2 separate regions of the Homo sapiens genome follow, and region 1 is linked to region 2. Evidence: fine-mapped expression QTL. Tissue or cell type: esophagus mucosa. Region 2 holds a variant in brackets; the other region holds the start of a gene. All regions are shown on one strand. Distances are between the middles of the regions.

What was found. PIP is the estimated chance that this variant, and not a neighbour inherited with it, causes the effect.
Region 1: it holds the start of LAMTOR5, and the variant in region 2 is fine-mapped to the expression of LAMTOR5 in esophagus mucosa (GTEx, PIP above 0.99). The same link has a PIP of 0.9 or more in sun-exposed skin.

Annotation. Positions count from the first base shown.
Region 1 is chr1:110,403,574-110,409,980 of GRCh38, forward strand. LAMTOR5 (late endosomal/lysosomal adaptor, MAPK and MTOR activator 5) reads right to left here and starts at 4,121. Exons shown (of 4, transcript NM_001382293.1): 1 at 4,013-4,121; 2 at 2,745-2,806; 3 at 346-463. The coding sequence starts at 4,047. It overlaps LAMTOR5-AS1 (LAMTOR5 and SLC16A4 antisense RNA 1), which reads left to right and starts at 4,236. Exons shown (of 3, transcript NR_102697.1): 1 at 4,236-4,381. RefSeq lists an enhancer at 4,063-4,292.
Region 2 is chr1:110,378,830-110,385,686 of GRCh38, forward strand. SLC16A4 (solute carrier family 16 member 4) reads right to left here. Exons shown (of 9, transcript NM_004696.3): 3 at 4,005-4,137; 4 at 2,823-2,966; 5 at 2,153-2,314; 6 at 24-527. Among named protein-coding and RNA genes, the nearest start is that of SLC16A4, 8.8 kb to the right of the region's middle. The variant C/T (reference allele first, on the strand shown) is at 4,759.

The DNA.
Region 1 (6,407 bases), 25 kb after region 2:
ACTGTACTCCAGCCTGGTGCCAGAGCAACACCCTGCCTCAAAAAGAAAAAAAAAAAAAGTAATTTTTATTCTCTGATTAGTTTTCCTTTGTGCTATTTGTTACTTTCTTTTTGTTGGTAAACTGATAGCTTCTGCCAATTCTTATTCTTCATTTAAATAGCATTGTGGCCTGAGAGCACATTAGCTTTAGGGATCAACTTGTCTGTTCCTGTGATTCAAAAGATTAAGAACTTTTCCCAAAGTAGTCTGAATAAGGAATCACTGATGAACACAGGGCCGGCCCCCGCCAATTTTACCAGGAATTTTTCTGAACAAAAAGGAAAGGATCTGCTGAAATCTACTCACCCATTATCTGATTCTAGACACACCACAGGAATATCAGTGGGGTCAGAGGTTAGCTTAGCTGCTTGCTGGGCTAGAACAGATATCACTCCAGCATGCTCATCTGACAGGGTCCCGCGGCCTGGAAAATAGAGATGATATATGTCACCTGATTGCTCATAGAGTATTTCTGCTAAAATAAGCTAGCTGGCTGTTTTAAAATGTCTACAGAATTGTCTTTTTATTAATGTCTGTATTAGTCTGTATATATTATAGTAACTAAATCTCGGGTACAAAAGTACCTATAAATTCTAGGTACGAAAATTAATTACTAAGTGTACTTTACAATATATTTCTGTATATAAAGGCAACACAAAGTTAACTGTACCTGAAACCAAATCAGGTAATAGACATGCCACTATGGCAGAGCATTTGGATGTACTATTACTATACAAAACATTTTGACCAGATCCGATGCCGACGTTTGAGCCTTGAAGGTTTCTTGAAGGAACTCATTTAGTTTTAGATTTCCATACCTGAATTTCAGTCTTTCCATTAGTAAGCCTAGCAAATGCTTCCAAAAATTTACCCTTTTTCTCCCAAATGACTGATCTGCATGTTAAACATAACTGAGTTACACCGATTACCTCTTTCAGTTACCCTTCCAGCAAAAATTCAGAGCTTTAAACATTCCTGCATTAGGAGCAACAAGTCTTGGGTTTACTAGTTGTCACTAATTAACTGAATGCTTTACTTATTTACCTTTCCAAACTTATTTCCTCATGTGTAATTGCTACCATTTATTAAGTATTATGTCTCAGTTCTATGTAAGCATTTTATACATATTATATAACCTTAAAATATCGTGATTAGGCCGGGTGTAGTGGCTCATTCCTGTAATCCCGCACTTTGGGAGGCGGAGGTGGGTGGATCACCTGAGATAAGGAGTTCGAGACCAGCCTGGCCAACATAGTGAAACCCTGTATCTACTAAAAATACAAAAATTATCTGGGCGTGGTGGCAGGCGCCTGTAATCCCAGCTACTCAGGAGGCTGAGGCAGGAGAATTGCCTGAACCTGGGAAATGGAGGTTGCAGTGAGCCAAGATCGTGCCACTGCACTCTAGCCTGGGCGACAGAGCAAGATTTCGTCTCAAAAAAAAAAAAAAAAAAGTGATTAAGAGGCCTCAGGGCCAGACAAAAATCCTAGCTTAACGACTTACTAGCTGCATGACCTCAGGCAAGTTATTTAACCTCTGTGTCTCAGTTTCTTTTTTTATTTTTTGAGACAGAGTCTCGCTCTTGTCATCCAGGCTGGAGTGCAATGGTGCAATCTCGGCTTACTGCAACCTCTGCCTCCCAGGTTCAAGCGATTCTCCTGCCTCAGCCTCCCGAGTAGCTGGGATTACTAGCACCTGCTACCATGCCTGGCTAATTTTTTTTTGCATTTTTAGTAGAGATGTGGTTTCACCATGTTGGCCAGGCTAGTCTCGAACTCCTGACCTCAGGTGATCCACCCGCCTCCGCCTCCCAAAGTGCTGGGATCACAGGTGTGAGCCACCGCATCCGGCCTCTTTTTTTAAATTTTAAAAACATATATATATGTTTATTGTAAAAATAGAGATGGGGGGTCTCACTGTGTTGCACAGGCTGGTCTTGAACTCCTGGGCTCAAGTGATCTGCCCACCTTGGTCTCCCAAAGTGCTGGGATTACAGGCGTGAGACACTGCACCTGGTCCCTCAATTTCTTTTTCTACCTCACTGGGTTGTTATGAGGAATAAAAGAGTATATGTAAAGCACTTACAATGGTGCTTGGCACATAACAGCTCAATAAATATAATTCTATGATTATTACCATTATCAAATAACAACCCAGTGAAGAAAATGAGGGCCTAAAAGGTAGTTTTTTGGTCCACGTTCACACTACTAACAAATGAAAGAGCAAGGGATTGAGACCAGGTATGTCCAACACTGAAATCCCATTTTACTGCCTATTCACTTCTTGTTTAGTGTAGTTGAGCTTCAAAATTGTACACCACCCACCTTGCCGGGTTGTTGTGAAAATTAAAGATAATGTATTTAGAGCCTAGCAGTCTCAGCATATGGCATACATTCAATAAATGGTTAACAGCTGTTATTATCTGAAGTCCTTTCTAGACTCAATTTAAAATGATTCAAATATTATTTTTAGTAGAGACAACTATTTATTGTTATAGGACTGCAAGGAACATCTTCCTTCATAAATACCAACTGAAAAGTTTCAATTTTCTGATACTGTTATTTGGAGATAATCTCTACTCTCAAACTCAGAAAGACCTGGCAAGGTAACAGGAAATAAAAGCTAGAAAATAATAGCACGCTAGGCTCCAAGTCAACATCAGATGCTATGCAATTCATCAAATAGTTGGTATGAGAGATACTTACAACCCAGATTAAGTCCTTGTGAATCTGTGCACAGGACTCCAACAATGGAGGGATTCTTCATTCTAATTCCAGGAACACAAGAGAGTTGAAGTACATAATGGGAGAAAAAGGATTTAAATAAGTACAAACATACAGGTGTTCTATGTACCAGGCATTAAGTGCTTTAAATCAATATTTCTCAATCTTTTTTCATTGTCACACCCTAAGAAAAAAATTAAGTTCTAGGGCCGGGCGCGGTTGCTCACGCCTGTAATCCCAGCACTTTGGGAGGCCCAGGTGGGCGGATCACCTGAGGTCGGGAGTTCAAGACCAGCCTGACCAACATGGAGAAACCCCGTCTCTACTAAAAATACAAAATTAGCCAGGCGTGGTGGCGCATGACTGTAATCCCAGCTACTCGGGAGGCTGAGGCAAGAGAATCGCTTGAACCTGGGAGGCGGAGGTTGCAGTGAGCCGAGATCACGCCATTGCACTCCAGCCTGGAAGACGAGCGAAATTCCGTCTCAAAAAAAGAACACAAAAAATTTAAGTTCTAGTTAATTAATTGAAATAAACCAGTTTCTCTCTGATGAGAGAAAAAAATGTGCTAAGTACTGCTGAGTTCTGGAGGGCCACAAACACTGCGTGAAAAACATCTAGGATGTTTTCACTCTTGTTAAAAACGCATGTTTTAGTACTAACTCATTTAAAACAACTGTTGAAAAACTCAAGTTACCTCCTGGAGGGTAAGTGGAAGCTGAGGGACATCGGTGGGAGGCAGGTGTCTCTCTGTACCCTTTACACTTTTCCAGTTTTGAATTTTACATAGATACTGCTTGTTCGAAAAATTTAAAGAATGATTTTTATCTACTTAAGCACCAAGTAACTGATAGGTTACACACAGGAGATACGTGTTTGTTTACACTGCAGGGCTCGACACTGCACAACTGGCACAATCTTCCCAAAAGTCAACCCGTTTTCTAAAACTTCCGCAGAACCACCCTGACCGTAAAGACGATTTCAACAACGAGATAGGCAGTTTTGGCCCGTGGCCTGGGCCCGGGAGACTCGCTCAAGAGGGAATGTGCGGTGCCCGGCAGGATTTTAATTCCGGGTCACCCGCCCCGCCCTGCGGCCTTGGGTAGAGTTTAGCCCCCTCATCCCGTGTCCCGGGGGTCGCGCGACGTCCCCGAGACGCCCTGGCCGGTACTCGCAGCTCGCGCCTTTCGTTCCGCTCAAGTTCCTCCGCCGCGACCTCAGGACAGGCCGAAGAGGCGCGCACTACTCACGTGTCTTCCAAGTGCTGCTCCAAGGTCGCCTCCATCCCACCCACCGACCACTCCGGCTCAGAACCCAGCGGCACGGCACGTCCTTCTCCACCACAGGCCTCAGTCACTTGACGCGAGCGGGGCGTGGACCGTAACGGCGCCTCCAAAGGGACAAAATTGATCACGGTGCAACGTCCGCGTTCTTTACTGGAAAACATCACTGCGCTTCCGTCGCACAGAGCCTGACGAAGGCTTGGGCTCCCCGCGCGGTGACCGTCGAGGTGACCTGCACCTGGCTCCATGGCGGAACCGGCCGGCACGGATTATTCCCCTCTCGGGAGAGGTCTGCAGCCGGGCCTCAGTGCTTCAGTTCGTGGCCTGGCATTTTGTGTCAGTGTTTTTTAACCTTTGGACCCTAGTTCAACCGACTCCGAGACCTAGGGGACAGATCTTAAGTTTTACAATAACCCAGGGGTCAGACAGGGTCTGATCTAGCCTGTGGGGCAAGTACGGGGAAGACACGGGACCTCTTGGAGGGGGTCAGTAGGCTTGTAGGGGGAAAGACGCACACAGAGACTAAAGGACGAGATGGAGCAAGGTTCAACCCCCTAGCTGAGTGTTGGCAGTGTCGGGATTTTAACGAAGACATTGGTGCTTATTATGGTGAGGGGACTCAGGACAGTTTAGGGGAAGAGAGTGGCATTTGAGTCCTAACTCGTAAGGAAGACTGGGTAGGACTACTTGAAAATAACTTTTAAAAATTAATTATAAAGCTGGTAAAAATAGGAAAACATCTATGGCCCCACTGTCCAAAGACGACTTTTAACTTCTTGGAGAATATCCTTTCAGATAGTTGTCTTTGTAAATGTATACTTTTAATGTTTTTTCGTTTGCCTTTTTAAAATAAATTTTTTGGGGGACAGGGTCTTGCTCTGTTACCCAGGCTGTAGTGCAGTAGAACGATTATAGCTCATTGCAACCCGGACGTCCTGGGTTCAAGCTATCCTCACCTCTCAGCCTCTCGACTGGCTAGGACCACAGCCTCGAGCCATCATGTCTGGCTAATTTTTACGTTTTTTTGTAGAGATGGGGGTCTCGCTGTGTTGTCCAGGCTGGTCTTAAACTCCTTGCTTCAACAGATCCTCCCACTCCAGCCTCCCAAAATGTGATTACAGGCTGAGTCACCACGCCTAGCATGGTTTTTTTTGTTTTGTTTGTTTTGTAAGCAAAATTGACATACATACTGGAGGTACAATTCTGTAGCTGGCCTTCTTTACAGAGTTTAGAATAAATGTCTTTCCATGTCAAGTTTTCACTTACATCCTTTGTAGTAGTTGCAAAATATTCCATTTTATAGCTGTATCTTAATTGTGGATTAAGGTTGGAGTGCAGTGGCACTATCATGGCTTAGTCCAGCCTCAGCCTTCTAGGTTCAAGCGATCTTCCCACCTCAGCCTCCCAAGAAGCTGGGACTACAGGGACCCGCCACCCCACCTAGCTAATTAAAAAAAAAATTGTAGAGATGGAGTCTCAGTGTGTAGCCCAGTCTCAAGTGACCCTCCCTCGTTGGCTTCCCAAAGCGCTGAGATTGCAGGTGAGCCACTGTACTTGGACTTTTTTTTTTTTTTTTGCTTTTGTTTGTTTTTTGTTTTAGCTATTACAATGCTGGTTGAATATCCTCATAGCTAAATATCTGTGCAGTTTTAAAATTTCCTTATAAGTTACTAGAAATGGAATGACTGGGTTAAAGGACATGATCATTTTTTAAGACTCTTGATACATACTTACAAATTGCCTCCCGAAAAAGTGGTGCTAATTTACTCAAATTGGTAAGCCTCACCCCCTCTGTGGATCATTCCTTGCACTAAGTTTCTTCCAACTCTGTCACCTCCAGCTTTTTACTCACAGCCTACCTTCCAATCTGGGGCCCAGCTCCCAGATCGGAAGATACCAGACTTTGGTATTGAACCAAAGTCCAATACACTGCACTGGCATTCAGAGTCCCTTTTTATTCCGCAGCTGTCATAGTGAAGCTTGCAGCTTCCTTGAAATTCCAGTTTGTTTATTTCTTTATTTTTTTGAGACAGAGTCTTGCTCTATCGCCCAGGCTGGAGTGCAGTGGCGCCGTCTCAGCTCACTGCAACCTCTGCCTCCTGGTTCAAGCGATTCTTCTGCCTCAGCCTCCCGAGTAGCTGGGATTACAGGCATGCACCACCACACGTGGCTAATTTTTGTGCTTTTAGTAGAGATGGGGTTTCACCATGTTGGCCAGGCTGGTCTCAAACTCCTGACCTCAAGCGATCCGCCCACCTCAGCCTCCCAAAGTGCTGGGATTATAGGCATGAGCCATTGCACCCAGCCAAAATTCCAGTTTGAATGTTATAATTCAGGGGTCTTGGACTCCTGCTCTAGAGAA
Region 2 (6,857 bases):
GAGGCTGATGTAGGCTTTCTTACCTGCTACAGAAACAAGGTAAGAGGCATCCATGATGTCAATCCCCAGTGTTTTGGCTCTGGCTACCAGGTGAAAGGTAGGGATGAAGTATGCTAACTGACTGAGGAGAAAAGACCAAGTAAATATGTAGAAGAAAGGATTTCTAAAGAGAGAAATGTCAAACAGTTGTTTGCAGCTCCACGAAATAACCTTATCACTTTCTTCATCACTCTTTAATAACAGTCTGTTCCTGTTAGGCCCATTGTAGAACTCTTCACTTTGATTTTGTGAGACTGTTAAATTTTTGCTAGGTAGTCCAGCCTTCTGCGTAGTACTGTCCTTGATGGTAGACTCTTCTGTCTCATGGCAGTGTGTTTCTGTTGCATGTGCCTCTGGACCATGTGCAGACAAACTGCTGCCTTTATCTTTAATACCAGAATTGTTCTCACTTTTGATATGGATGGGTCTTAAGAGCATACTAGAAGGCACCAAATTCAATGCGATAGCTCCAAATAATATAAGGGCTCCTAAATAGGGAGAGATTGAGCAATTAAAAATAGCCTTTCAGTTCACAATACTGCTTTGTGTTCATAGGCTCAGAAGAGGCCCCACTGGCATAGCCCATTAATTCTTGAAAACATTACTTTGTCTCCGATTTGACTTATTAGTCATATACACTGCTGTATCCGTGTAATAATGTAGTGCTTTGGAGATAGAAAACCAGAAAGCTGCACCAATAGATGGGATAAAAGGAGAGATGGTGGTTATTTGTGTTAAGGGGGGTAGGGGGGGCAAGTTTTTGGAGGGAGAGGAGAGTGTTTCAAATGCTAAAAAATTAAATAGAAAATTTAAATATCCTGAAGTGAGAGTACAGATTTAGGTACAGAAAAAATAGAATAAGATGAAAGAAATCATTTGGAAACAGCCTTAGAAGAGGGGACAGCTGGCCAGGTGCTATGGCTCATACCTGTAGTCCTAGCATTTTGGGAGGCTGAGGCAGGCAGATCACTTGAGCCCAGGAGTTCAGGACCAGCCTGGGCAACATGGTGAAAACCTGTCTCTACAAAAAATACAAAAAAATTAATTGATGTGGTGGTGTGCACCTGTAGTCCCAGTTACTTGGGAGGCTGAGGTGGGAGGATCGCTTAGCCTGGGAGGTGGAGGTTGCAGTGAGCCGGTATCATGCCACAGCACTCCAGCCTGAATGACAAAGCGAGAGAGCCTGTCTCAAAAAAAAAAAAAAAGCAGCGGGAGGGAGGAAGGCATGGATAGCCTTTCATCCCATGACATTTTTTAGATCTTCCTTAAAAGATGACAGATGCTAATCTTGCCTTTGGAGCTGAATAGTTGCTTGCATTCAGCGTGTCCTGATCAAAGCTATGATTTGTATGGTGCTTCTAAAGATAGAATGGGCTATAGGTTCTGCTATCCTATCATGGATTTGTCAGCTGGTCCCATTCACCATGAGACTACTGAATAGTTAGGAAAGATTCAACAAAACTGCCATGTAGATAGCAATAGGCATATGAATACACACATATACATGTATTTTTTCCAGTAGTTTAGGATTATTTTAATCCAAATGTCTTAGTTACAAAGAAAATTGTGAGTTGAATCATTTTTTATTCATTTGTGAAAATTTATAGTTGACATTACATAAACTCTTAAGGAACATACTCTTTTTACCAAAGTATTTGTTTCTTTTTTATCTATTTCAGTGAGTCCGATGGGGGAGGAGTTTTTTTAAATGCAGATTTTTGTCTTAAAGGGAAAATGGGAAAAGTGAGGGTTTTTGATGGGGCGGGGGCGGGGGGGGAAGGGGGAAGCCTTATTTCCCCAGAAGTATCGCTTTTACTGCAAGCTGTTTCCAGCTGCACGGAATGCCCTCCATCTCCTCAGACATTGAGCCCTATGGTGAATTCTGAGTTGCTTGTGTGAGCTGGCAAAGCCTGCAAGTATTTCAAGATCTCTTTTGCGTATGTATTCTCCAGGGAAGAGAAGCATGTTTACTTTAGAAATTATGCTCATTTCCTCTCTTGCAATACCTTGTGAAATCGATTGCTCTGAAAGTCTTAACTTCCATTTCTCAAAGGGAGAAAGCTGAACGCTAAATCTTGCACAGTTGATAGTAAATAAACTTAGAATGACGTACCTGTCCAGTCATACAGATCTATCAGGAATTTTGTAAAGGGTGCCAAAAGAAAAGTCAGTCCCATCCCAGAACGGGCAATAGCTGTAGAAAGAGCCAATCGTTTTTTGAAGTATTTGGTAGTTACCACAGCAGCCACTTGGTATAAGAAAGCAGAACCCAAACCTAAAAGAAAAACGTAATAGTTTAGAATCACTCTTACATTAAGTGGCTTGGTAACAGAAAAGATAATCTCCTGGATCCGAGATAATACAGCTAGGCCTTTTGGACCCAGGAACAGTAGAAGGGAAGAGTCCTGTTCCATCTTCTATCTTCTATGGATGGATGCATATATACATACACACACACACACACATATTTTGAGACAGGGTCTCACTTTGTCACCCAGACTGGAGTGCAGTGGCACAATCTCGGCTCACAACAGCCTCAGCTTCCTGGGCTCAAGCAATCCTCCCACCTCAGCTTCCCAAATAGCTGGGACTACAGGCATGTGCCACCACTGGCCTGGCTAATTTTTGTATTTTTAGTAGAGACAGGGTTTCACCATGTTGCCCAGGCTGGTCTCGAACTGGACTCAAGCGATCCACCCACTTTGGCCTCCCAAAGTGCTAGGATTACAAGTGTGAGCCACCACTCCTGGCCTTCTATGGTCACATAATTACAATGGACTCACCGGGTAGAAGTCCCATAGTCACACAAAGAAAAGGAATACTTGTGGCCCAGCTGCTGATCAGATATCCACCAGTAACAACGAAAGCCCCAAGAATGGAGGTAGTTTTCTCTCCAAGTATGTCACAAATAATAGCAACCAGGGGACCTTAAGAGAAGAAAGAAAGGCAATTCTTAGGTAAATAATGATCTGGCATCCCTTATCCTCTGATGGCGATTTAAATGAATGACAAGGAAAGCAAGAGGACTGTTTACTTTGAAGTATTACGTATTCTTCAAAAAAGATTTTCATATCGGGTTTCTTAATATCACTAGTGCCACACTATTTTAGTTTTTGGAAGGGGAGTTTAAAAGGAAATGTTGATTGTAAGTAAGGTTTGGAGGGGAGGTGATTTGAAATGCATTATAGAACCTCCACAAAAAGATTGCATCTAGTGGTCAATGACTAGAATAAGGTTGAATCACTTATCTGCTCTTCCACCCTGTTACAGCTCCAAATAAAAGGAGAAGAAATTGGTTCTATAATTTGTTTTGAGGCTGGACGCCGTGGCTCTTTAATCCCATACTTTGGGAGGCCAAGGTGGGCAGATCACCTGAGGTCTGGAGTTTGAGACCAGCCTGGCCAACATGGTGAAACCCCATCTCTACTAAAAATACAAAAATTAGCCAGGCATGGTGGCGGGCGCCTGTAATCCCAGCTAGTTGGGAGGCTGAAGCAGGAGAGTTGCTTGAACCTGGGAGGCAGAGGTTGCAGTGAGCCGAGATAGCACCACTGCACTCCAACCTGGGCAACAGAGTGAGACTGTGTCTCAAAAAAAAAAAATAAATAAAATTGTTTTGAATATACTTAGATAACTAGAACTTCATGGCCTAACTTCCAGGTTGAGGGCCTTACTCATTGAACCTATATTAAGGCATTAACAGACTGGAAAGGCAATGCATGAAATACTGAATCATGGCATTTAATAATTCCTCAGCTTTCTTTGTTTGAATGCTGATTCTCCCAACTTTGTTACTAAGTCAAGTGGAAGCTAAATATTGCAATTCCTTACTTTCTCAGCGTTACATATCAGTAAATGAACCTTAATTTTAGAAACTGAATTCCTATTCAGTCTTGAATAGGAATCTTGGAATTGCCCTTTGTGGTTCTTCTCCTTAGACAGCAAGCTTATTGCCAGCTTTATACCTGCACAAAAACGAAGAGATGACATGATGGATCCAATCCAACCAATTTGCTCTGAGGTGCCTTCAAACTCTTCTTGAAAGACCACAAAGAAAATTGCAAAAGTCTTGGTCATCCCCATCACAAACACATTCACCTAAATCAAAGCAGACCAGAGTCCAACTCAGGTGGTAAGTGAGCCATTACAGAGGCAATTACGGCTACTAGAAGTTATGATTCCCTCAGCTTACTACTATTTACCAGTTTGCCTTATTGGTTGAGCCTCATTATACATCTTATATTTTATGGGGGAAGTCATTCCTTTTAAAGTAGCTAAGCATTTTAAATGGAAACATCTCATTTAATCCTCATTTCATGGCTTTGGAATAGGCATGCCAATGTTGTGTACCAAATAATTTATACCAAATAAACCACCCAGTGGGTTCATCTTGCCTGCTGCCTAGATACAGTTGATTTATCAAGACAGGAATTGCAATAGAGAAAGAGTTATTCCCACAGAGCCCATTGTGCAAGAGACTGGAGTTTATTAGACCAATCAGTTTCCCCGAGCTTTTGGGGATCAGAGTTTTTAAGGATAATTTGGTGGGTGGGAGGCCAGTGAGTTGGGAGTGCTGATTGGTTGGGTCAGAGATGAAATTCTATCAAAGCTGCCCTTTTGCGCTGAGTCACTTCTGGGTGGAAGGGTGGAGGGGGACCCACAACCAGATGAGCCAGTTTATTAATCTGGGTGGTGCCAGCTGATCCATCAAATGCAGGG[C/T]CTGCAAATTATCTCAAGCACTGATCTTAGGTTTCACAATAGTGATGTTATCCCCCGAGCAATTTGGGGAGGGTCAGTCTTGTGGCCTCCAGCTGTATGACTCCTAAACCATAATTTCTAATCTTATGGCTAATGTGTTAGTCCTACAAAGGCAATCTAGTCCCCAGGCAGGAAGGAAGTGTTTTTTTTTTTTTTTGGAAAGGGCTGTTAAAAGGAGGTTTTTTTTTTTTTTTTTTTTTTTTTTTGGAAACGGCTGTTAGTTTCTCTTTCAAAGTTAAGCTATCAACTAAGTTTCCCCCAAAGTTAGTTCAGCCTACGCATGGGAATGAACAAGGACAGCTTGGAAGTTAGAAGCAGGATGGATGGAGTTGGTTAGGTCAGATCTCTGTCACTGTAATAATTTTCTCAGTTATAACTGCAACAGCAGTTCCAAGATCAGGAAATTGAAGTTTAGAGAGGTAAAAAGTTGCTTAAAATAGGGGTACTGGAACTGAGATTTGAACCCAGATTAGACTGACTCTAGACCTGGCACTCTTTTACTGCCCTCAGTAGCATCTGTTAAAGACAGCTAATTCCAGTTACCTTTGTGGGAGAAAAGTGTTTGTCCAAAGAGGAATAATTATTCCTGTCAGTTCTTAGATTAGTTTTGATTTAACTCTGCTGCTGAGCTGAGTACCTTCCTTCACTAGATATATAAATAGGTTGACCATAAAATGTATCATCCAAATTGAGACACTCAAGAGTGAAAAGGGGTGCTTAATTTTGGATTAACTGGGATTTGTGGCCATCTTAAGGTTGGGCCAGGGGCCCCATCCTTTTCTTTCTGCCCCACCTAATCTTCCTTACCTGTACTCCACTAGAATTGCTGCTTTGGAGATGAGGTTTTCTTTCTGTGGAGTATTAACTTTTATTTCTCAGAATTCTAGTTAGCCGGGGGGCTGTTAAGTGCTATTCCTTCTTTCCGTTTTTAAGTAACAGTCATGCTTTATCCCACAGGGGTCTAGAGGGGAACCTAGCCAGGGTTTGCATTCACTCGTAAAGCCCAGGTGTACTCTCTGTCTCCAGGGGTTTCGTAGCGTTGGCTTTTCAAGGCCACTTCTGCTTTCAACCTGGCCATGCATTGCTTATGAACCACAAAACCAGCTGGGCATGGAGGCTCCTGCCTATAATCCTAGTACTTTGGGAGGCCGAGGTGGGTGGATCGCTTGAGCCCAGGAGTTCAAGACCAGCCTGGGCAACATGGCGAAACCCCGTCTCTACAAAAAGTACAAAAAATTAGCTGGGCGTAGTGGTATAACACCTGTAGTCCCAGCTACCTGGGAGGGTGAGGTGGGAGGAACACCTGAACCTGGGAGGTCGAGGGTACGGTGAGTTGTGATCACACTACTGCACTCCAGCCTGGGCGACAGTGAGACCTTGTCTCAAAATTAATAATAATAAAAGAACCACAAAGCCTTAGGTTCCCCTTCATTAATTCCACTTTCTCGGCCCGCCTGTTACAGTTCTGTACTCATCTCGCTTGATATCTGCTCCCTGGACAATCATTTACTCTCAAGGTTTTAATTACCACCTGCATACTTATGGTGGTGTAGCTGAACAGGGTTCTGCAATCAGTCTGCCTTAACTTGCATCCAGGCTGTTCTTCCTACTGGGGCGTGACCTTGGGCAAACAACTTCGCACGTCACATGGGTTAAGCTTCCGCTTTTATGATGGGGGAGGCGGCATTGGGGATGAAAATATTACCTAGCTCATAAGACTGTGAAGATTAATTGAGAAAATTCTGATAAAGTACTTAATATTTGGCACTTAACACTCAAACAATTAACTGTGGTTTCCATTCTGCTTTCCCAAGAGCTTCAGACTCCTAATTGTCTACCATATCTTTATAACTTCTGGTCAACTTGTCCAAACATAAACTCACATTTCCCTTATCCTATGCCTACTCTTTTCAGTTTTTTCTATTGGTACCATCCACCCATTCATTTGAGTGACAGATGTGCTTTCTCTTAGACACCTCCCTCCCTCAGCCCCTGCTTTTAAATAATGGTCAAGACCTGCCCCCTTCTTTTCACCCCATCACTACTGGCGATGCTCAGAA